4 linked regions of the Homo sapiens genome follow. The protein of the gene in region 1 purifies or fractionates together with the protein of each later gene. This does not show direct contact. Each region holds a gene or a part of one and is shown in the gene's direction. Other genes may lie near its edges.

Region 1 (2,275 bases):
GTTTTTCTACTGCCCTTATGTAACTGGTCTGCCAGCTTTTTAGAACTGTGTGTGCCTGCAACTTAGAAAAAAAATCCCACAGTTAAATTGGTTAAAACAACTGTCAACTTTCCTTGCTTTTTTGCTGCCAGTTTGGTTAGGGTAACCTTGCAGCCTTGCTGATTCTGTCCTTTGATTTTAAATGCACGTGTCTTTTGAACCTCAAGATGAAGGCTGAGAAGTGACTCTACAGGCTTACTTGTGGAAATGTAGAATGAGTGGGCTTTGCTTTTGTGATCTGTTTTCCTATTTATTGACACCTTCCTTGTTTATTCCAGGTTCACAGCTATAGTCTAGATGGTGGAGGTTTATGACTTTCCAATAAGTGAAATGTTAATGAGGGTTATTAACCCTCACTAGTGTCTGTTTGGAAGTAGTGACATTCTTCCAAAAATCTTGGAAAAGTTGTTTTGTAGTGTGAATGAGCATGAGTCACTGATCTAAGCCCTTTCACTGGATGAAGTGAAAAGATTTTTTTTCAACAAAAGAGGGAGAGAGAGAATCAAGACTCTGATAAACATAGTACTATTTTTAAAAGAAATCCAATAACAATAAAGATTGTTCTATTCTCTGCCTTCCCATTTAGATAGGGTTTAAACCAGCAGGAGGCATCCGCAGTGCAAAGGATTCCCTTGCTTGGCTCTCTCTTGTAAAGGAGGAGCTTGGAGATGAGTGGCTGAAGCCAGAACTCTTTCGAATAGGTGCCAGTACTCTGCTCTCGGACATTGAGAGGCAGGTGAGTAATCATCTCTGTCTTTGGAATAAATTAACAAGTGTTTTTTGAGAAAGGAATTGAAAAGTCAAATTGAGAACTGGAGATAAAAACTCATCTGATTGACCTCATCCTACCCAATCCTCTACCTTTTCTTCCAAGCAAACCGCCATCAGAAGTGAGTAGGGTGGAGATTCTGCTGAAGCACATACTAGTGAGGCTTTCTAATGAAATGTTCATTAAAACTATTTATTATTATTTGATAGTATAATTATTAACTGATGTGTATAATTATAGAATGATTGTTAATTAAACTCTGCTTTTCCTCACAGATTTACCATCATGTGACTGGAAGATATGCAGCTTATCATGATCTTCCAATGTCTTAAATCAGTCACCAGTTCCAGAAAAGTTCTTTACGACAATGTTTAAAAATTATTTTTCTACGTAATTGCTAAAATTATTTAATTAAAAAATTGGGCAGTAGGTAACTGGCATTCCTCTCTTTAAAATTTCTACCGAACTTAATGGAATGGAAAAAGCAAACTCATCCACATGTGGTACTCATTTCAGGCACATCTGAAATGATCTTAATTACTAGAAGATCTGCACTATTAACTTTGTGAAGAGTTTCTCCTAAAAACTTTAAGTAAAATGTTAATGGTAGCTTTGATAACATCAAATTCTAAGGGAGAAAAAAACAATATTAAACCGCCCAAGCAGTGTGCCCTAGCAGAGGAAAATGCAACATCTCGCAAGCGCTGCTGTAACGACTTCAGGAGTCACTGATTCAGCACTAATTTCCTGCTGTGAAAACTCATCTTTCATTTTTGCCGTGGATAGGCGCTTTTATTAATTGTTGTCCTAATGAAATTTCTGACATTGTCATATACAACGATGAATATCATTAAAATTTTTAAAATAATAAAGTTCCTATAGTTTATTTTTTTAAAAAACTTAAAAATTGTTACAATACATAATGAAAAAATAATCCATTAAACATAAAAAGAGGTTTGATCAGTGAGTCTCTGAATCTCTCTAGTTGATTCCTTGGGTATATATCTGTAAAACACCCCAGTATGTTATTAATGAATGCAACTTATGTATGTGTTCTGAAACTTCAAATTTTCTGGTATAGTGAATGGAGGAAAACAGTAGATATTAACAGCACTTGCTGTGTAATAAGCTTTACATATATCAATTTATTTAACTCTCATTTAATCCTCATAATAGTAAGGTAAATACAGTTAAGGGTTTTGCTTCTTATAGCAGTAAGTACTCATGTAAACATCCTTTTATACAGACAGGGGAATGAGGAACAAAGAGTTTAAGCAACGTGCCAAAGGTTGCTCAAAATTAGCAGAGTTAAAAATCAAGCCCAAGCAGACAGGCTGGCTCCCAAGTGCGTGCAGTCACCCCCATGTCTCCCTGTCCCTCGGTACACATAGTCAGGTGTACATAAACAGAGCTCCCCATCAGCTGAGAGGACGGTAATCTGCCTCATGGTGGCTGGCTTTTTTGCTC
Region 2 (3,500 bases), on another chromosome or scaffold:
TGTAGTGCAGTGGCACGATCTCAGCTCACTGCAACCTCCGTCTCCCGGGTTTAAGCAATTCTCCTGCCTCAGCCTCCTGAGTAGCTGGAATTACAGGCGTATGCCACCACACCTGGCTAATTTTTGTATTTTTAGTAGAGACTGGGTTTCGCCATGTTGGCCAGGCTGGTCTTGAACTCCTGACCTCAGGTGATCTGCCCACCTTGGCCTCCCAAAGTGCTGGGATTATAGGCATGAGCCACCTTGCCTGGCCCAGGACATTGTTAACTAATAAACCTTGTTTTTTGTTTTTTCCTGTTAACTCTGCCTTATGCTTAGCCTTGGAATTAAAAAAAAAAAGACTGGCATGCTAGTTCTTGACTCCTAGCTAGCCCATTCTTTCAGGGAATCATCTTCTTTGAATGTGTTCTTTGTCCCATAGTATAATAAACTATGAAGAAGAATGAGCATGCATCTATTTTCTGTCATCTGATTTAGCTAACAACTTCTTCACACTGTCACTGTGCTCCCAAGTGAAGGGGGCCAGAGTTGCCTCCATTTGGTGTCCGCAGTGAGCAACAGGTTAACGTTTCAAGGGAAGCTTGAAAACATTCTCGTTTTCAGAGAATGTTGATCTCTTTCAAAAGTCATAGCACTCTCCCACTGTCGACACACACATTTCTGGGGCTACTGTGTCAAATGCCATTCTAGGTGCTGGGCACGTAGTGGTAAAACAAGAACAGGCTGATCCTCCCTATCAAAACTTGTAATCTTGAGGGAATATAGACAATGAAGTAATTGCACAAAGAGCTATGCCATTACAAACTGGAAGACGGTGTGAAGGGAAAGTGCAGGAGGCTAGCACAGAACCTGCTCTCAGTCGCTGAAGGCCATCGTGGACACCATTGTATGAATTTCTTCAGGAAACTCTAGAAAAAGGTGACCTTGGACACTTTAGTTATTATTTAAGCCTTTTTTTTAAAAAAAATTTATTCATTTATCTCTTTTTAAAATAATACTGTTCGGCCGGGCATGGTGGCTCACACCTGTAATCCCAGCACTCTGGGAGGCCGAGGTGGGCAGATCACCTGAGGCCAGGAGTTTGAGACCAGCCTGGCTAACATGGTAAAACCCCATCTCTACTAAAAATACAAAAAATTAGCCAGGCGTGGTGGTGGGCGGCTGTAATCCCAGCTACTTGGGAGGCTGAGGCAGGAGAAAAGCTTGAACCCGTGAGGCAGAGGTGCAGTGAGCCAAGATCGCACCACCGCACTCCAGCCTCGGTGACAGAGGAGACTCTATCTCAAAAAAAAAAAAAACAAAACCCTATTGGTTGGAACATGCATTCTCCTTATTTTAAATCACAAATGAGGGCCTGACAAGGTGGCTCATGCTTATAATCTCAGCATTTTGGGAGGCCACGGCAGGAGGATTGCTGGAGGCCAGGAGATGGAAATTAGCCTGGTCAACATAGTGAGACCCCATCTTTATTAAAAAAAAAATCACAAATGAGAGTAGAGTCTGTTTTGGCTAGTGTTTATTGAGTACTTCTATATGCCAGGTATTTGGTACATTATTTACATGCATTATATCAATTCTCACAATAATTCTGTGAGGTAAGTACTAGTATCTCGTTTTTCAGTTGCAGGACTTGAGCCTTAGAGAGCTTAAGTAATTTGTTGATGATCATAAACTGAAGATGCTGAGTTTGAACCCAGGTCGAGCTGGAAGTCCTAAACGTGTAATTTTATGGCTTAAAAAAAAATAGGCCTACATACTGTTTTTCTACAAAATGTAATTGAGTATTAATTCAATTTAAAGCTGAATAAGATAATTGATTACAATGGGTCTTTAGTTAACATGACCTTGTTTAAAAAGTAGCGTCTTTAGATATCACTTTGTTCAGTTTTTTAAATTTTACAAATGAGAGAACCAAATCCCAGAGAGGTGTCACGTCCTAAGGTTATGCAATTAGTGAAAGAAACTGGACAGTTCTGCAGGGCCAAGGAGGAAAAAATAAACTTTTATTTCTTCTCTTGACTCTGGATTATATGGGCAACTTTGAGCCTCTCTTCACACATCCGATGATGTTCTAATATCTGCAAGCTGCAAAAACTTTTATTCTGAATAAACAATGTGAGTGCTGAAATAATTGAAACCAGTTTTTTTAAGTCCATTACATACTGATGAATTAAAAATTTCAGTTTTATCTTGTTAATACAGCATCATGTGAAATAATTTTTGTGCATTGTTAGAGAAAGTATAGATTTGATGGTCATGTAAAGAGTTTTGTAGATATTTAGTAGTTTTTTAGCAATGTCCCCCCATCCCGCTACATAATGGAGTTTTGTTGGCTATTCAGAAGAAGGGTGAATATTTTGTACTTTTTCTTTTTCAGATTTCACTGTGGGGAAATAAGTGTGATCTGTCTCTCTCAGGTGGAGAAAGTAGTTCTCAGAATACCAATGTACTAAATTCATTGGAAGACCTAAAACCTTTCATTTTATTGAATGATATGGAACATCTTTGGTCATTGCTTAGCAATTGCAAGAAAACAAGAGAAAAAGCTTCTGCTACTAGAGTGTATATTGTTCTCGATAATTCTGGATTTGAGCTTGTTACAGATTTAATATTAGCCGACTTCTTGTTGTCCTCTGAACTGGCTACTGAGGTTCATTTTTATGGAAAAACAATTCCATGGTTTGTTTCTGATACTACTATACATGATTTTAATTGGTTAATTGAACAGGTAAAACACAGTAATCATAAGTGGATGTCCAAGTGTGGGGCTGACTGGGAAGAGTATATTAAAATGGGTAAATGGGTTTACCACAATCATATATTTTGGACTCTGCCTCATGAGTACTGTGCAATGCCTCAGGTTGCACCTGACTTATATGCTGAACTACAGAAGGCACATTTAATTTTATTCAAGGGTGATTTGAATTACAGGAAGTTGACAGGTGACAGAAAATGGGAGTTTTCTGTTCCATTTCATCAGGCTCTGAATGGCTTCCATCCTGCACCACTCTGTACCATAAGAACATTAAAAGCTGAAATTCAGGTTGGTCTGCAGCCTGGGCAAGGGGAACAGCTCCTGGCCTCTGAGCCCAGCTGGTGGACCACTGGAAAATATGGAATATTTCAGTACGATGGTCCCCTTTGACTTGATTTAGGAGCTCTCAGTTGCATAGAAAGATCTGGTGAGCACCTTTTCATCCCCAGAAAAGGAGCACGTGAATTGAGTCGCCTGGCGGCTCTGTACGCGCTCAGGGAAGCTTAGCTTCTTGGTGCCCATCTACGTGCACTGGATGATTTTTCTTTTGAACATTTTGCCCCACTACACTGTTTTGGGGATAGCTGGGTTAAGCAAGTTAAAGATATTTACATTTATATTGGAATTTTAGCAACTTTTTTTCAGGTTAAATATATAATTTCAAGTGCTTTTAATGAACTTATTTTTAATTGGCTAGGGAGCAAAAAATAAGTGAGTTCTGCTTTTAGTTAGTTAACCTTGTTCT
Region 3 (3,500 bases), on another chromosome or scaffold:
TAGAAGAAAGCATCACAGCGTAACTGACTTGCAAAGGAATTTTTTTTTTCAAAGTGCTTTACATTTGTTCGTTCACCTAAGAATGAATTGTATATAAACCGAAACGGCAAGAAACTGGTATCCTCCTAGTTTGTCAGTTGTGGTACAATTTGGTGAATAAAGCTGAATGGCTACAGATCATCAGACAAGCCATTGACTTACAGAAACGCATAGACTGTTCTGGAACTAGCAACAGTTTTGTAAAATTCCTTTTACCTTTTTTACATTTTATTGCTCAAGAAACTGGGATCAAGAACTGAAGAAAAAGATTTTTAAATATATCTCTCTTTTTTTTTTTTGAGACAGGATTATACTCTTGCCCAGGCTGGAGTGCAGTGGTGCGATCATGGCTCGCTGCAGCCTCTGTCTGCTTCCCAGGCTCAAGCAGTTCTCCCACCTCAGCCTCCCAAGTAGCTGGGACTATAGGCATGTGCCACCACACCCAGCTAATTTTTGTATTTTTTATAGAGACGGGGTCTCACCTTGTTGCCCAGGCTGGTCTCGAACACCTGGGCTCAAGCGATCCCCCACCTTAGCCTCCCAAAGTGCTGGTATTACAGACATGAGCCACTGTGGCCAGCCAGATATATCTGTTAATCCTAATTTTTTTGTTTGATAACTCCCCAACTACATGTTTGATATTCTTTAATTAAGAATATTATGCTGGGCATGGTGGCTCTTGCCTGTAGTCCCAGCACTTGGAGAGCTGAGACAGGAGAACCGCTTGAGCCCAGGAGTTTAAGATCACCCTGGGCAAGATGGCAACACCCCCCTTCTCTTTAAAAAATTGAAAAGACCAGCTGGGTGTGGTGATGCATTCCTGTAGTCCCAGCTACTTGGGAGGCTGAGGTAGGAGGATCACTTGAGCCCTGGAGGTCAGGGCTATAGTGAGTTGTGATTACGCCACTACAATCCAGCCTGGGCGATAGAGTGAGACCATCTCAAAAAAATAAATTTTTTTTTTAATCAATGGGATTTAATTTGATTGAAGACACTATGTTGAAAGACATTCCTTAATCTGACTTGTTTTTTGAAGCTAATGACTTTGTTTAACTTTTTTAAATTAGGAATCCTAGCTCGTAATATTCCAGAAGATAATGCTGACATGGCCAGACTTGATTTCAATCTTATAAGGTAAAAACCTGAAATTAAACTTTTAACACATTACGAACCAACGACAAAGACTATGCCAAACCTGGTGTCCCTGTGTTTTCTTACTCACTATAAACCTTTACTGCGTACCTTCTGTGTGACTTTGTATGTGTGTAAGCATTTTGGTTTGGCCAGATTTATATACCAAAATACATACTGAAGTTTTTTAGGAAGTTACAATCTAAATCTTAGTATGTATAGGTTGAGTATCCCTTATCTGAAATGCTTGGGACCCAGAAGTGTCTTGGATTTCAGATTTCTTCAGATTTTGGAATATTTGCAGGTAACATGCCAGTTGAGCGTCCCTCAGAAATCCGAAATGCTTCAGTGAGCATTTCCTCCAAGTGTCATGTTGACGCTCAAAAAGTTTCAGATTTTGGAGCATTTCAGATTTCAGGTTTTCATATTAGGAATTATCAACTTGCACAACTAACTGAGTTATTTGCATAAAGATACTGGCTGTTTCTCTTAAATATACGTAACAGCTTTATTGAGATCTAATCCACATACCATACAACTCACCAATTTAAAATGTACAAATCAGTGGTTCACAGAAGTTGTGCAACCATTACTGTGTTAGTCTGTTCTGCATTGCTATAAAGGAATACTAGAAGCTGGGTAATTTATGAAAACAGGTTTATTTTGGCTCGTGATTCTATAGACAGTACAAGAAGTGTGGTGCCAGCATCAACTTCTGGTGAGGGCCTCAGGAAGTTTATAATCACAGTGGAAAGCAGAGGGGGAGCTGGCATATCCCATGAGAGAAGAAGCAAGAGAGAGGGAGAGGAGGAGTTGCCCAGCTCTTTTACTTTTTAACTTTTATTCTTAATTTAATTTAATTTTATTTTGAGACAGGGTCTCGCTCTGTTGCTCAGGTTGGAGTTCAGTGGCATGACCTTGGCTCACTGCAACCTCTGCCTCCTGTGTTCAAGTGATTCTCCTGCCTCAGCCTCCTGAGTAGCTGAGATTACAGGCGTTTGTCACCACGCCCAACTCATTTTTACTATTTTTAGTAGAGATGGGGTTTCACCATGTTGGTCAGGCTGCTCTTGGAACTCCTGACCTCAAATGATGCACCCACCCCGGCCTCCCAAAGTGCTGGGATTAGGTGTGAGCCACCACGCCCGGCCTGCCCGGCTCTGTTAAACAACCAGCTCTACATGAACTCAGAGTGAGGACTCATTATGGGGAGGGCACCAAGCCATTCATAAGGGATCTCCCCCGTGACCCAATCATCTCCCACCAGGCCCCACCTCCAACATTGGGGATCACATTGCAAAATGAGATTTGGAGAGGACACACATCCAAACCATATTAATTGCCACATCCAATATTAAAACATATTCATCACCCCCACCCTAAACCCTATACCCATACGCATTTATTCTCCATTTCCCCAACGTCCTCCAGCCTCGGCAACCACCAATTGTTACGTGTCTGATTTGCCTGTAGTGGACATTTTCATATAAATAGAATCTAACAATATATGGTTTTTTTGTTCCTGGCTTCTTTCACTTAGCATGTTTTCAAGGTTTATCCATGTTATAGCATAGTATCAATAGTTCATTTCGTTTTTAGTGCTGAAAAATAATCCATTGTGTGGTCATACCCTGTTGTTTATCAGTTCATTTGTTGATGGACATTTGGGTTGTTTCTACTTTTTGAATATTATGAATAATGCAGCTATAAATATTTGTGTATAAGTTTTTGTGTGGACATACACATTCGTTTCATTGGGGTATATACCTAGGAGTGGAATTCCTTGGTCATATGGTAACTATGTTTAGCTTTTGAGGAACTGCGACCCTGTATTTCAGAGTGCTGCACCATTTTACATTTCCAGCAGCAGTGTGCTGGATGGGGCTCCAGTTTCTCCACATCCTCATCAACGTTACTATCTGTCTTTTTGATTCTAGTCATTCTAGGGGTTCTGAAGTGGCATCTCATTGTGGTTATAATTTGCTTTCCAAATAATGTGGAACACCGTTGGATGTGCTTCCTAGCCAGTTGTTTACCTCCTTTGGAGAAATGTCTGTTGAGACCTCTTGTCCATTTTTAGTTGAGGTATTTATCTGTTTATTATTGAGTTGTAAGTTTATTTCCTCTCATTCTATGGATTGTGTTAGCCTTTCTTGATGGTTTCCTTTGATCATCACAAGTTTTTTCTTTTTTTTGAGACGGAGTCTTACTCTCGCCCAGGCTGGAGCACAGTGGCGTCATCTTGGCTCACTGCAACCTCCACCTCCCGGATTCAAGCGATTCTGCCTCAGTCTCATGAGTAGCTGGGGTTACAGGTGCCCGCCACCACA
Region 4 (3,500 bases), on another chromosome or scaffold:
TGCAGGCGTGAGCCTCTGCGCCCCGCCCACGTCATTCTTCATGTGGAAGTTTTTCTTTCTTTCTGGGGTCAGTTGTGCCTTCCCTGGCTCAGGGTGTCAGCAGCATTCACCCACCAGCCTGACCACCTGCTCATAGAATTGCCCAGAATGTTAGAGCCGAAAGCGCTGCATGGATGCCGCAAGGGCAGCCTGTAATCCCAGCACTTTAGGAGGCCGAGGCGGGCAGATCACCTGAGGTCAGGAGTTTGGGACCAGCCGGCCAACATAATGAAACCCCGTCTCTACTAAAAATACAAAAATTAGCCGTGGGTGGTGGCGGATGCCTGTAGTCCCAGCTACTCAGCAGGCTGAGGCAGGAGAATGGCGTGAACCCGGGAGGCGGAGCTTGCAGTGAGCCGAGATTGTGCTGCCACTGCACTCCAGCCTGGGCGACAGAGTGAGACTTTGTCTCAAAAAAAAAAAAAAGAGCAGCAAACATTTACCATCTCATGTGGCTTCTGAGGGTCAGGAATCTGGGAGCAGCTTAGCTCAGTGTCTGTCCTGAGGCTGCAGTCAGGTTCGGTGGAGCTGCAATCTTTTGAAGCCCCCACTGGGACACGAGGACTGTCTCCAACACAGTTCACTCCTGTGGCGCCTGCATGTACCCACACACACCCACACACACCCCCACACACCCACATACCCGCACACCCGTACACACCCCCACACACCCCTGCACACACCCCACACACACCTGCACACCCCCGCACACACACCCCCCACACACACCCACACACACCCCTACAGCAACGTGCACACACCCCCACACCCGCACACACCCGCACACACCCCACACACCTGCACACACCCACACACCTGCGTGCACACCCCCCCACACACCTGCACACACCGCCCACACCAACATGCACACACCTCCCCCCCACACACACCCACGCACACACCTGTACACACACACCTACACATCTGCGCACATACCCGCACACACCTGCATGTAAACATGCACACACACGCACATCTGCACGCACATGCGCACACCTGCACACACCCACACACCAACATGCACACATCCACACACATACCTGCACACAACTGCACACCCCCGCACACACCCACACACACATATGCACACACGCACGCACACCTGCACATACCTGCACACTCACATGCACACACGCATGCTGGTGCAGCCCTGCCGGGGAGCCTCCAAGGCCCTCACTCCAGAGTGAATAGGAGGGTAGCCTTCTCCGTGGGGGTCAGCCTCTCCCTGGAGGCCAGGGCGGGGCAGTCACCCTCTCTGTGTCTGGAGAATCAGTCTGGGATTTAGAAGGAATAGTTGCTTTTCTTCCTAAGGAAGTTTCTCATGTCTTATACCCTCCAGGTTCGCATCGCTTTGCAGCTGGACGATGGCTCGAGGTTGCAGGACTCTTTCTGTTCAGGCCAGACCCTCTGGGAGCTTCTCAGCCATTTTCCACAGATCAGGTGAGCATCAGTGGGCTGGGGGCTCTTCCCTACCCTGTTTGCTGGGGAAGCTGCTGTGGTTACTGGGTCTGGTTCAGAGCTGGACACCCAAGCTCTGTGCTGGCCTGTGGTGCCTCTTGGCACTTTGCAGTCCTTTGTAGAGGAGGGGTGTGTGGGCTGCCGGTTCATGAGCAGCAGCCTCGGGGATGGCTGGTCACAGCTCATCGTTCTGAGTTTCCTGGGCCCAGCGGCCCAGCCTTGCCCACCTAGAAGAGCAGGAATGTGCTTCTGTCCTTGTGGGGGCCTGGTGAGCACTAAGGGGAGACGTTCGGTGCTGGGGGCAGGGCTCCCCATGCTTGATTCCCCTGGATGGGATCATAAGGTCTCTTTTTTTTAAGAGGCAGGGTCTCACTATGTTGGTCACCTAGGCTGCTCTTGAACCCATGGGCTCAAGAAATTCTCCCATCTCAGCCTCCCAAAGCGTTGAGATTACAGGTGTGAGCTCCTGTGCCCCACCAGAAAATCTTCCTAATAGTAATTGGATGGCTGGGCACAGTGGCTGGGCACAGTGGCTGGGCAAAGTGGCTTGCACTTTGGAAGGCCGAGGCTGGCGAATCGCTTGAGCTCATGAGTTCAAGACTAGCCTCGGCAACATAGTGAAACCCCTTCTCTACAAAAAATAGAAATGTTAGGCCAGGCATAGTGCATGGTGGTGCGTGCCTGTGGTCCCAGCTATGCCAGAGGCTGAGGTGGGAGGATCACTTGAGCCGTGGAGGCAGTTGCAGTGAGCCGAGATCGCACTGCTGCACTCCAGCCTGGGCAACAGAACGAGACTCTGTCTCAAAAAAATAAATAAATAAAAATAAGTAATTGATGTGTATCAGTTTCTGTCGGTTAATGGTTTAAACGTTGTTCCTGAATGTGTAAAAATTGGTGCTTTGTCAATTTGGGTCTTTTCATCGTTGGCTGGAAGTCTCTGTCCACAGTAAAAGGCTCAGCAGAATGGAAGGGACTTGGGGCTGGGGTTTGCTGTGAGCCAGGGGGTTCTCGCCCTCCCCGGGCCTCAGTTTCCTCACCTGTGCCCCGGCTGGTGTGTGGATGGGGTGAGTTCATGTCTTGAGGACCGAGCATAGGGCCTGTGGGAAGGTGACCGCGCGTCGGGCGCTGGGAAGGTGACTGTGCGTTGGGCGCGCTTGGTGGCCCCAGGGCTGGGCCTGCTCCCGTCTGACAGTAGTGCCGCGCTGCATGGCACGGGTGTTGCGTTCGTGGGTGAGAGCGCTGAGGTCTGCACGTCGGGTCTCAGTGGTCATGGGGATGGAAGCCACCCCAGTGGCTGTCGGGGTGAATGGAGGCCCCTGGAGATGGCAGCGGGTTAAGCACGAGCACGGAATTCTCCCTCCCAAAACGGAACTCAGACAACAGTGACGGAGCCTAAGAGCAAAGCCAAAGCCACGGGCAGGGGTGAGCGGGACCCGAGGCAGGAGATGACGGAGCCTAAGAGCAAAGCGAAGCCACGGGCAGGGGTGAGCGGGACCCGAGGCAGGAGGTGACAGAGCCTAAGAGCAAAGCGAAGCCACGGGCAGGGGTGAGCGGGACCCGAGGCAGGAGATGACGGAGCCTGAGAGCAAAGCGAAGCCACGGGCAGGGGTGAGCGGGACCCGAGCCAGGAGTGGCGCCGGGCAGGGAGGCAGGCAGCCCCAGGCGCTGTGTGGGCACTGGGTGAGAAGCAGGGATCCCGGCGCCCTGGCTCTGTGCTGCTTCCTGAGACGAGAGTGGCAGAGGGCAAGAAGAAAACCAAACAGCGCGGGGAACAGAAGTCAGGAAAGATGAACGTCTGGAAGGAAATGCCCCTGGGCCGGGCGGTGCCCCCGGGCGTGAACAGAATCCAGTGCTCCCACAGGCACAGGTGCTTGGTGAGGGCCGTCCTCCCTGGCTGTGCTGTCAGTCCTCAGATGGGGATGGAGGTAAGGAAATGGCCCAGAGTGGCCTGGGGCTGCCACTGGGGAGGGGCCGAGGGTGTCTGGAGAGGTGGGGCCGGCATT

Evidence for each region. The genes of interacting proteins can lie anywhere in the genome.
Region 2: the proteins of DERA (region 1) and DCPH1 fractionate together in Homo sapiens (co-fractionation; one large-scale study listed by BioGRID). This does not show direct contact.
Region 3: the proteins of DERA (region 1) and ATIC fractionate together in Homo sapiens (co-fractionation; one large-scale study listed by BioGRID). This does not show direct contact.
Region 4: the proteins of DERA (region 1) and ASPSCR1 fractionate together in Homo sapiens (co-fractionation; one large-scale study listed by BioGRID). This does not show direct contact.

The regions. Positions count from the first base shown.
Region 1 is NC_000012.12:16,035,607-16,037,881, forward strand, and holds the end of DERA (deoxyribose-phosphate aldolase), read left to right. Parts: intron 1-625; coding exon 626-775; intron 776-1,083; coding exon 1,084-1,140; 3' UTR 1,141-1,775; downstream 1,776-2,275. UniProt on the Homo sapiens protein: Catalyzes a reversible aldol reaction between acetaldehyde and D-glyceraldehyde 3-phosphate to generate 2-deoxy-D-ribose 5-phosphate. Participates in stress granule (SG) assembly.
Region 2 is NC_000006.12:151,465,966-151,469,465, forward strand, and holds part of DCPH1 (damage-control phosphatase ARMT1), read left to right. Parts: intron 1-2,377; coding exon 2,378-3,145; 3' UTR 3,146-3,500. UniProt on the Homo sapiens protein: Metal-dependent phosphatase that shows phosphatase activity against several substrates, including fructose-1-phosphate and fructose-6-phosphate.
Region 3 is NC_000002.12:215,318,559-215,322,058, forward strand, and holds part of ATIC (bifunctional purine biosynthesis protein ATIC), read left to right. Parts: intron 1-1,106; coding exon 1,107-1,173; intron 1,174-3,500. UniProt on the Homo sapiens protein: Bifunctional enzyme that catalyzes the last two steps of purine biosynthesis.
Region 4 is NC_000017.11:81,984,129-81,987,628, forward strand, and holds part of ASPSCR1 (tether containing UBX domain for GLUT4), read left to right. Parts: intron 1-1,378; coding exon 1,379-1,479; intron 1,480-3,500. UniProt on the Homo sapiens protein: Tethering protein that sequesters GLUT4-containing vesicles in the cytoplasm in the absence of insulin. Modulates the amount of GLUT4 that is available at the cell surface. Enhances VCP methylation catalyzed by VCPKMT.